Regions from separate parts of the Homo sapiens genome. Here regions 2 and 3 are each reported to be linked to region 1. Evidence: microRNA targets listed by miRTarBase, many of them from high-throughput screens and not tested one by one. Region 1 holds a microRNA gene; each other region holds the end of a gene's coding sequence.
The links. The annotated mature microRNA hsa-miR-6735-5p reads CAGGGCAGAGGGCACAGGAAUCUGA and lies in region 1 at 1,712-1,736, shown strand. An mRNA with a match to its seed (bases 2 to 7 or 8) in the 3' UTR can be bound and repressed. Matches are read on the target gene's strand: a 7mer-m8 pairs with bases 2 to 8, a 7mer-A1 pairs with bases 2 to 7 and ends in A, and an 8mer does both.

Region 1 (3,255 bases):
CGTTCCACTAGGCCACAGCAGCAGGGGAAATCTTGTGCTTCTTCCCACGGAAGGAGGGAAATGTGTTTTGGGCAGCCAGTGCAGCCATACCTTAACCCTGTCTCCTGCTGCTGCCTCCCCAGCTGTCCATGCTGTTCACAGAGGAGTGTGACAAGGTGCGGGACCTGATGCACGTGCACTCGTTCAGCTATGACTTCCATCTGCGCCTCGTGCATCAGCACGTGCTAGGTGCCCATCTGGTGCTGCGGCACGGCTACCACCTCACCACCTTTCTGCGACACTTCCTGGCCCACCACCCTGACGGACCCCACTTTGGCCGCAATCACATTTACCAAGGTCAGTGCCCAAGGGCAAGCCAGTGAACCCAAAAAAGAACAGGCCACAGGTGCCTCCAGGTCAGGGCTGGTGGGACCACCTCCCTGGACAAGTGGTCCCATGTTGTTAATCATCTCATGTCACACATACCACGTCCCCATGTTTCTGTCCTGTGTCTGTTTCTTACCAGAGTTTGGACCCCATGTCACATGTCCCCTGCCCTCTGAGTCACTTCTGTCCCATCTCAGTGTTCCACAGGAATGCAGGAGCTCCTAAGGAAAGCAGACCCACTCTGCCTGCCAGTCAGAGCCTTAAAGACTCCCATCCCTGTGCCCCACCAGACCAGTGTGTCTGTCCTAGGCTTAGTGTCTGCTGTCTCCTGTTACTTATCCCTCAGGGACATTGGAGCTCCCCACACCACTCATTGCTGCCCACCAGCTATACAACTACGTGGCTGATCACGCCAGCTCTTACCACATGAAGCCATTGCGAATGGCCCGGCCAGGGGGCCCAGAACACAACGAGTATGCCCTGGTGTCGGCATGGCACAGGTAAGGCTGAGAGGGGCATCCAGCATGCACGCTGCAGGAGCTGGGGTTGGGACATACTTGCAGTAGGGAGACCAATGTTTTCTTGGGCAGGGGTGAGGTTTGTTTTATTAGAACCCCAGAGTTGACATCTCCCCAACCCGTCCTGCACAGTTCTGGCTCCTACCTGGACTCTGAGGGACTTCGACACCAGGATGACTTTGATGTGTCTCTGCTTGTCTGTCACTGTGCTGCACCCTTTGAGGAGCAAGGAGAGGCTGAGCGGCACGTTCTGCGGTCAGCAGATCCCCTACCTTGAACATGCCCATTTCCCAGCCTGCCCCACCCTGCCCTGTGTGTCTCTTGCTACAACCACCACTCTCCTGCCCTGCTCCCCACCCCAGGCTACAGTTCTTCGTGGTGCTCACCAGCCAGCGAGAGCTCTTCCCCAGGCTCACTGCTGACATGCGCCGCTTCCGGAAGCCACCCAGACTGCCCCCTGAGCCAGAGGCTCCTGGGAGTTCAGCTGGCAGCCCTGGGGAGGCCTCAGGGCTTATTCTAGCGCCTGGACCGGCTCCTCTGTTCCCACCACTGGCTGCAGAGGTGGGCATGGCACGAGCACGGCTGGCTCAGCTGGTGCGGCTGGCTGGAGGGCACTGCCGTCGGGACACCCTTTGGAAGCGCCTCTTCTTGCTGGAGCCACCGGGGCCTGATCGACTGCGGCTAGGGGGGCGCCTGGCCCTGGCAGAGCTGGAGGAACTCCTAGAAGCAGTCCATGCCAAATCCATTGGGGACATCGACCCCCAGCTGGTAAGGAACTGTGGGCTCCCGAAAGAGCTGGGATAGGTGCCAGGAATTCCACTGGCAGCCAGGGCAGAGGGCACAGGAATCTGAGGTGACTGGCACAGAAGACTCAGGCCTGTGGCTCCTCCCTCAGGACTGCTTCCTATCCATGACGGTCTCCTGGTACCAGAGCCTGATCAAAGTTCTCCTAAGCCGCTTCCCCCAGAGCTGTCGCCATTTCCAAAGCCCAGACTTGGGAACTCAGTACCTGGTAAGTCCCCTTGAGCTTCCTCTGAAAAGGGAAACACAGCAGAAATCCTCACCAAACAGATGTGCCCCTCAGCCTGACCAAACAAGCTCTGCTCTGGAGGGAGGCCTAGACAGAACGGGACTACACAGATACATGTAAAACCCTTCCAGTACCGGGCATCGAGCTACAGCATGTGATTCTCTGAGCAGCTCTGCCCTCAAAGACTCACCAAGAATACAAGCCTTGGCTTGAGATCCTGAGGGCCAGGCTCTGGAACTGACAACCCAAGGAGCTGTCAGAACTTTGTCAGTAGGCTGGAGCCCCAGAAAGGACCCCTTGGACTTTGAAGCCTTGTTACTTAAAGTGTGGTCCACAGACCAGCAGCCGCAGCACCTGGGAGCTTGCTGAAATGCAGGCTCTCCGGCCACATTTCAGACTGTTGACTCGGGATCTGCAGGTTGACAGTCTCCCCAGGTGATTTGTGTGCACACTGAGGCGTGAAAGCACTGCTGTAAAGGACAGGTAGAGAGAACTGTGGTGGTGGACACGAGCACAGGGCATTAAGGAGCCCACAGAGATGGGCCCAGCCAGAGCTGAGGTTCAAGAGAGGAGGCATTACAAGAGAAGACTTCAAGTGAGAAAGTAGGAGGTGGAGCCAGGTGAGGGGTCCTGCAGCACAGTGCTTGTGCAGAGGATTCATTTCAGGGTGCAGGAAGGGTCTCCCAGAGAAGCCAAGGTCAGTTAGGATGAGGCTGCAGTAGTGTCGGCGGTTGTGAATGGAGGCAGGTGCTCCTGCGGGTGGTGGGAAGGCTGGAGCAGGAGTGGGTTTTGGGGAAGGGTGACAAGCCCAGCTTGGGGCAAGCTGAGTCTGGGGTCCATAGGCCCTTCACTGTCTGCAAGGTCTGTGGGCATCAGGGATTCGAGCTCAGGAGAGTCCTAGGCAGCAGCTCTGTGAACAGGCGGTAACTGAAGCCTTGGGAGAGCAAATCATCCCGGGATGGATCACCAAGCAGAGCGTTAGGGAGCAGATGGACATAAGGGGACGACAAGACAATCCCAGGGGTGGTCAGAGAGGAGTCCCAGGACAGGAGGCAAGGAGGTTGTGCCAGGGGTACAGCACTCTCTGTTGATTGGCTTCAGTGTGCCAGGCTCTGTGTGGGGCCTCCAGGATCAACTGTTACCCCTCATTCTGATGCAGCTCAGACAGGCTGACCAGCAAGCCAGCGAGGATGAGGACTGAGGCTCAATTTGGAGACACGGTCCTATGTGACCTCAGGGTGCAGGCGGGGTGAGGTGTGGAGATGGAAGTAGGCCTCTCCTCATCCTCCCTTCACCTCAGGATGCCCTGTGGGAGGGTCTGTAGGGTCTGTGTCCCCTCCT
Region 2 (3,255 bases), not on the chromosome of region 1:
TCCTGTTCATGACCTGTTGGAAGAGTCCAACAGGTCTGCTGAAATGTGACCTGCTGAAACGTGCGTTTCAGCCTGGCTGGTTTCTTTTTAGAAGACTCTGGGCTCTGGATTCAGACCCCTCTCCCTCCCTAGGATGGAGACGAATGTCTGCAGAAATGTGAGAAAACAAGATAGACCGTTTGCTAACGGCTCTCTTCCTTGCTTGCAGCGTGCAGGGCTTGCTTTCACAAACAGTGCTTCCAGTCCTCCGAGTGCCCCCGGTGTGCGAGGATCACAGCGAGGAGAAAACTTCTGGAAAGTGTGGCCTCTGCAGCAACATGATGCCCCTGAGTACTGTGAAAAAGACTGTTCAACATGCCTTATGATAACACCGATTTGTGTCTATTATTGGTGACATTGTTTTAGATATTGGGTATTGTATATTAAGGAAAAAGATGGTCTATATTCTCTTTATTGCATATACTTAATGTTTCAAAAGAATGCAGATTCTGTGTTTAAGCACAGGGCTGATAGTTGTGGTTTTGTTTACAAATGTTCTGTTTTGGCTGCTATTGGTTTTTTAAAGAGGTTTTTTATACTTTTGTATTTGAATAGTTATGTTTCACTGATGCTGAGCCAGTTTGTATGTGTGTGCATATATGTGAACTGTAACTGACAAGATGAATTACTCAGTTTCTCTTTCTCTAAAGCTTGTTTGATGAAACTGGTTGGTCCTTTCAGTGAACAAAAATATGACCCCAAATCTGTTTGCTCTGGCTTTTATTTCTTCAGGAAGCAGACTTCCACTTAAATGCCATTTTGTGATTGTGTCAATCATACACATTTTATTTACTTCAGAGTTTGAATAGAGAGTACACATTTCTTCTGCAGATTTATTTCATGATGAGTTTGAGTTGCTTAGCAGGGCGTGTGGGTCCCGTTGAAGTGCAGTTTGAAGCAACTGCTTCTAGATGGCACTCTTTCAGGTGGCACAAATTGAACCTGTATTTGTCATCTCTGTTCCACACACTGCAATGTCAAGGGATGCAGAAGTGAGTAGAATTCCATCCCTGCCCTTGAGGATCTTGCTTTAACAGATGTAAAACTGAACATAAGGTATTTGCAGATTTAAACGAACTGGGGGAAATAATGAACAGTGTGATTCTAGTAATAACATTAAAATCATAGACATTGACTAATAAGGTTAAATGAATCACAAAACCTTTATGAATTTCTTTTTTCTAATAGTTCTTATATGTTTTCCTGAAACATGTGAGCCTATTCTTTTTTCTTCTACTTTCTATATACTTTCTCCCACTTGAGAAAGGGGCCTTGAGGCTGGGTCCCTTCATGGTATACCTTTAGACTGAACGGTTTGCAACCTAGGGCTTGGGCATTACATTCCCTGGGATTCACATGCCCTAACTAAACCTACCTTGATTTTCTCAGACAGCACAGGCAGGCAATAAAGCGTCACAGATTGTCCCCTAACCCCATCCAGCCATGTGTATGAGTGTGTTTTATTCAATGGGATAGTACTGAGCACATGAAAGAAATGAATGACTTCTGTCAATCTCTTTTCATTCAGTCTTCTCATTCTGTCAATTGTTTTCTCATCCGCAGTGCCTCTGCCAGAACTGTGCTCACATCCATTATTTAAGCCAGATCTTTTCTAAGTATTATAGAAGTGTAGAGGCACATAGAATAAATAAAACCAGACTTCAAACAATGTTTCATTCTTGCCCATTGCTCCTATTCCCTGTTAAGAATCAAGGGTAAGAGTGGTATGTTCACATTCCTTTCTGAGGCAGATGTCTATATCTCCATTTACAGGCAAGGAAACTGAGGCCTAGAGAAGAGAAATAACTTTCCTAGGTTCCCACAGGAAGTGCATGATGGAGCTGGGGTTGACATTCAAGTCCACCTGCCTCCAAAGCCCATGCTTAGGCCCTGCTTCTTTTGTGGTGTCTTTTCAAGACAAAGGAGTAAAAACAACCTTAACTGGTAAGTGTTGCTCCAACTTGCAGAAGTGGCATTGGGCAGAGTGTTTTCTCACATCAGTGTTGATTTAAGGCAGCTGCTATGGCTCAAGCATTGCTTGAAGGGCTCTGTGCTCAGGGTTTGTATGTTTGTAAGGCACTGATGAGCCTGTGTGTGTTACATATCTTTGATATTAAGGAAGAGTGCACAGCAGTTGCCAGGAAGTGATGCTTTTGATTTTCTATTTTGAGGAAGAATGAGGTCATTTAAATAACTGCAGTATGGGATTTGTCTGAGACTTTGTTCCTCTCCAATGTGATAATAGAGGCTTCTTCCCAGGAAGGCACCTGTTAGGGAAGTGATCTTCAGCCCACATGGAGCACCCCATAAGGAAGTAATTAGTTGTGGCATATATAGCTGTTTAATGGGTCTTCCTGATTGTGTGGGTTTTCTGTTCAACTCTTCCTTGGCTGCCGGAAAGAAGATGAATGCTTGGTCAGACCATTACCCACTGTGAGGCATCAGTTGCAGTGCTGTAAAGGTCAGTGATTCATTTTCTGCCTCTGCACTCTTCACATGGGCAATTCCAGTAGTGTGTCATTTACAGTCATGATTCTCAACTGCAGGGAGGAAGTTACACCATCTCAAGGCAGAGGCTATAGGATGAGGAGGAGCAAGCCATCCCAAAGATGTCTGGTGTGTTGACCTGGGTGAGAATTATTGGCCACAACTTCAGATTAGATCCCAAATATGCCACTTTCTACCTACCCATGGTGACTTGGTGCTCTAGTTTGGCTTGTTTGACTCCTGCAAACCTCATGGTGAAATTTGATCCCCAGTGTTGAAGGTAGGCCTAATAAGAGGTGTTTGGGTCATGCGGGTGGATCCCTCAAGAATAGCTTGGTGGCACCTTTGTGGTGATGAGTGAGTTCTCACTCTTAGTTCCCATGAGAGCTGGTTGTTATGAAGCCTGGCACCTCCCTGCCCTCTCTTTGCCTCCTCTGTTTCCATACAAGGGGAGTCTGCACACGCAGGCTCCCCTTCCCCTCCACCATGAGTGGAAGCAGCCACAAGTCCTAACCAGAAGCAGATATTGGTGCGATGCTTGTACAGCCCGCAGAACCATAAGCCAAATTAACCTCTTTTCTTTATAAATCACCCAGCCTCAGGTATTCCTTTATAGCAACACAAATAGACTCAGACACTGGGGAAGCCATTTAAATTATCTAAGCCTCTGTTTGTAAAATGAGGGATATGACTCTCTGCAGTTGAGATAAGGATTAGAAATGAAAATGA
Region 3 (3,255 bases), not on the chromosome of region 1:
CTTACTCTCCTAGACCTAACAGACTACATCCATAACAAGTACATTTTGTCTAACTTGCAAAAAAGTGCATGGACAAAAATTCAGTAAACGTTTGATGAGAAACTATCAACCCTTAAGAAATGGCAATTTTTATAATCTTGTTCACTTTTATTAAACAGGTCCTAATCCTGAAATTCAGGTACTACGCACCTGCAACTAAAACTGAAAAACAAAAATAAAACCCAAGTGCTTCCTATTCCCCCTACGGGCTGAAAATGGGACAGTGTGACTATCTCAAGTCTCTCAAACACAAAGCCATATTCACTCAAGAGAAATCGTTTACATGTGGTTAAGGAAACAGGAAATTTTCACATTGGCTTTAATATTTACATTTTACCAAAATTTTCCTGAACTCAGTAATCATTACTAACACTTTTTATAGTATTATTTACTGCATCTTAAAAAAAAAAAACTAAGCAGAAAGTGTACAGTTGAAGAAAACTGGATGTCAGTCTATACAATGATTTACTTTTGGCATGACAGACTTTATTTTGGCACTTTCACAAATATTTTGCTTTACAGCAGTGACAAAATATTTGCCAGAAATTTTTCTTTTCCTGGCACGGATATTCCCAGCAGTTGTTATTCTATGAATTGAATTTCACTCTGCTTTGCACAGTTAGAGGTATACCCATTCCTACCCTCTGTAATTGAGGGACACAGCGTGGCTTTAGAAAGCTAGGCTATCGTTTCCTTTTAGTCACTCTAAAGTGAATTGGTTCTGTAAGTGATGGGGCAGGAATCTGAGAATTAATTAAGGCCATTAAGGATTTAAAGTAAACACTGTTCCAAGTGTTGCTTAAAAAAATGTTTTTAATGAATTATGTGGCAATTCCAGGGAATGTTCTCAAAATGAAATATTCATACTTTATTAAAAGTAAATTGTATGTTGGAAAAGTTGCTTTTTTTGCTGTCTTCTTCTGACTTGGACGGCTCACAGTTTAAAACAAAATTAGTGGTAAAATAGAAAAAGGAAATGTTTAGTACAGAAAGTACCAGCCACAGTACCCTCATAACTCCATCTCCTTCCCCAGGCATCACTCTTTCCAGCCACTTCAATCCTAAAGCAGTGAGACCCTCATTTTAACACACAGAGCCTCCCTGCCTACCCTCCTTCCCTGTAACGTGAGCTACTGTAGTCCATTTATTAGTTCTTCGGTTAAGCTTCAGTAGACATTTGGAGCACAATTCCAAAGGTAAATCAATCTATAGGCCTAAGCCTTAGATACCAACATCAGGAAAGCCCCATTCAGATCTTTGGAATTTACAGTCTTGTAAGTTATTTGCAAAAGCAGGCGTCTGTCTTAATATTGCCATCAGTTATCCTATAAAGGTTGCAAACTTCGAAATCCCCTGGCAGCCTTCCAATATCTCTACCTAGACACACACAGGATAATACATTCAGATTTCCTCTGGCCAATTCAGAAGTGAATCTGGTAATAAACAGTCTCATCGACAGGCTCTTTGGTCTTGATTTACAGACACTGTGAAACACTTAGAAATCAAACCCACGTCATCCTTGAGAGCAGACGGCCGTTAGCAAAGGGGAGATGTACATTTGATCAAAAATGTACAAAATTTATAACAGTGACATTTTCAATATTAGGCCACATGATTTATTCAGTAGTTTTTATGTTCCCAAATTACAATTTATGTCTATTCATAAGACTACAAAAGTTACCATTAGAATTGTCTGTGCTTATAAAATACCAACTTTTTTTTTAAACTGTTACATATACTCATTAACACCAGTCTGCAACAAGTTACATAGAATCAGAGGCACTTCAAAGGCTTAAAAAGACGTTTACAACTTAAATGCATTTTTAAGAACAAAAACTGATTTTTCTTTAAACCTCTACTCGTACCTTCAAATTGCAAGAAATTAACAAATACAGTGGCCAAAGGAATCTGCAGCAACTTCTTAAAATACTGTTAACATCTTTGGGTTTGCTGAGGCTTGTCAGTAACTTACATCAAATCCTCCCAAAAGAAGATCTGATTAGATAGATATGACTAAACGGTTTTGTAGTAATAATCCAATTTTACACATTAATTTGCTGTTGCAAATCTGCCCAAAGCTACAGGTAATGAAAAATAAAGCAAGTGTAAAATGGATAGTCTGACACTTAAAAATTTATACAAAGTGGAAGTTAAAGTTTACATATTTGAAAATCACATATACACTAAATTACCATTATCTGAATTTTCCAAAGACAAATTGCACCATGACAGCTACAAAAGGCATAGGGTTTGGTTTTAAGGGCACAAGAAGGGAGGGCAGAGGAGAGGAAGGGGACAACAGATAAATTAACAAAGTAAGACCAACTTGGTAAGGTCAATCTGAGACATGCTGACACAAATGAAACAGCTTTCATCTTTGAGTCATAGGAAAAAGACAATCATTTTGTATTTGCGCATAAAAGTTTAAACCAATTCCATGAACATCGAGGGTTTTCATAACATAATATTTTGCCACTGCTATTCACAGAACACTGCAGATGTTAAATTTTAATTTTATGTTGTTCTAAAGAAATACATGAAATGTTTTAAATACAATGGGATTTTATCATTAAAGTGCCAGAATGGCTCTTTAATGAAAACAAAAAACAAAGATCTTCATTATTCTATGCAAAAGCTTTATTTTGAAAAGTTCAGTGATCTCATAAATAGAGACACTAAGTTGGAGTTTTACGCATAAAACTCCTTAGTAGGTGCCTTCTGATAAGCAGCACTGGATGGTTTGCGTTCTCCAAGGTCATAGCTTCCTTCATCCTTCTTTCTCATGCGATACACCAACAGCAGGATAAGAAAAATTGCAAAGAGAAAGCCAATAACTCCACCAGCAATGACAGCTGAAACAACCAAAAGGAAGATTACTTTAGAAGAGATTCAAGGGTTGCAGACATTAGCTTTATTGTCAAGCCTAATCTACTTACACTTTTATAAAAGGCTTAATTTGAAAACCCCAATAAAAAAAAAGCTGGATTCAATGAAGCAACCTGGTAACTATGCAAATCTGAAACTCCTCAGGAAGGTACAGTAATTTCTTTGGTTAGTGTTAATAATACCACCCAAAAACCTCGATAAGAAAAATCTGGCCTTGATCTTAACTAATTCCATACTTGAAAACTACTTTTGTCTTTTCAGAACTCACATTTCATATTCTAATTTTCTAACTGCTTTTTTTCAACAGAGAACATAGTATAATTGACTTAA

Region 2: the mRNA of RUBCNL is a reported target of hsa-miR-6735-5p. Seed matches in the 3' UTR shown: 7mer-m8 at 1,050-1,056, 7mer-A1 at 1,397-1,403 and 7mer-m8 at 2,941-2,947.
Region 3: the mRNA of SDC2 is a reported target of hsa-miR-6735-5p. Seed matches in the 3' UTR shown: 7mer-m8 at 2,314-2,320.

What each region holds. Positions count from the first base shown.
Region 1 is chr1:43,446,833-43,450,087 of GRCh38, forward strand. MIR6735 (microRNA 6735) reads left to right here and starts at 1,707; the gene lies at 1,707-1,779. SZT2 (SZT2 subunit of KICSTOR complex) reads left to right here. Exons shown (of 72, transcript NM_001365999.1): 66 at 123-336; 67 at 713-866; 68 at 1,017-1,139; 69 at 1,247-1,652; 70 at 1,780-1,896. It overlaps SZT2-AS1 (SZT2 antisense RNA 1), which reads right to left and starts at 1,812. Exons shown (of 2, transcript NR_046744.1): 1 at 1,271-1,812; 2 at 944-1,100.
Region 2 is chr13:46,340,451-46,343,705 of GRCh38, reverse strand. RUBCNL (rubicon like autophagy enhancer) reads left to right here. Exons shown (of 15, transcript NM_025113.5): 15 at 209-3,255. The coding sequence ends at 321. Among named protein-coding and RNA genes, the nearest start is that of LINC00563, 44 kb to the right of the region's middle.
Region 3 is chr8:96,609,021-96,612,275 of GRCh38, reverse strand. It overlaps SDC2 (syndecan 2), which reads right to left. Exons shown (of 5, transcript NM_002998.4): 5 at 486-2,891. The coding sequence ends at 2,728. Among named protein-coding and RNA genes, the nearest start is that of CPQ, 35 kb to the left of the region's middle.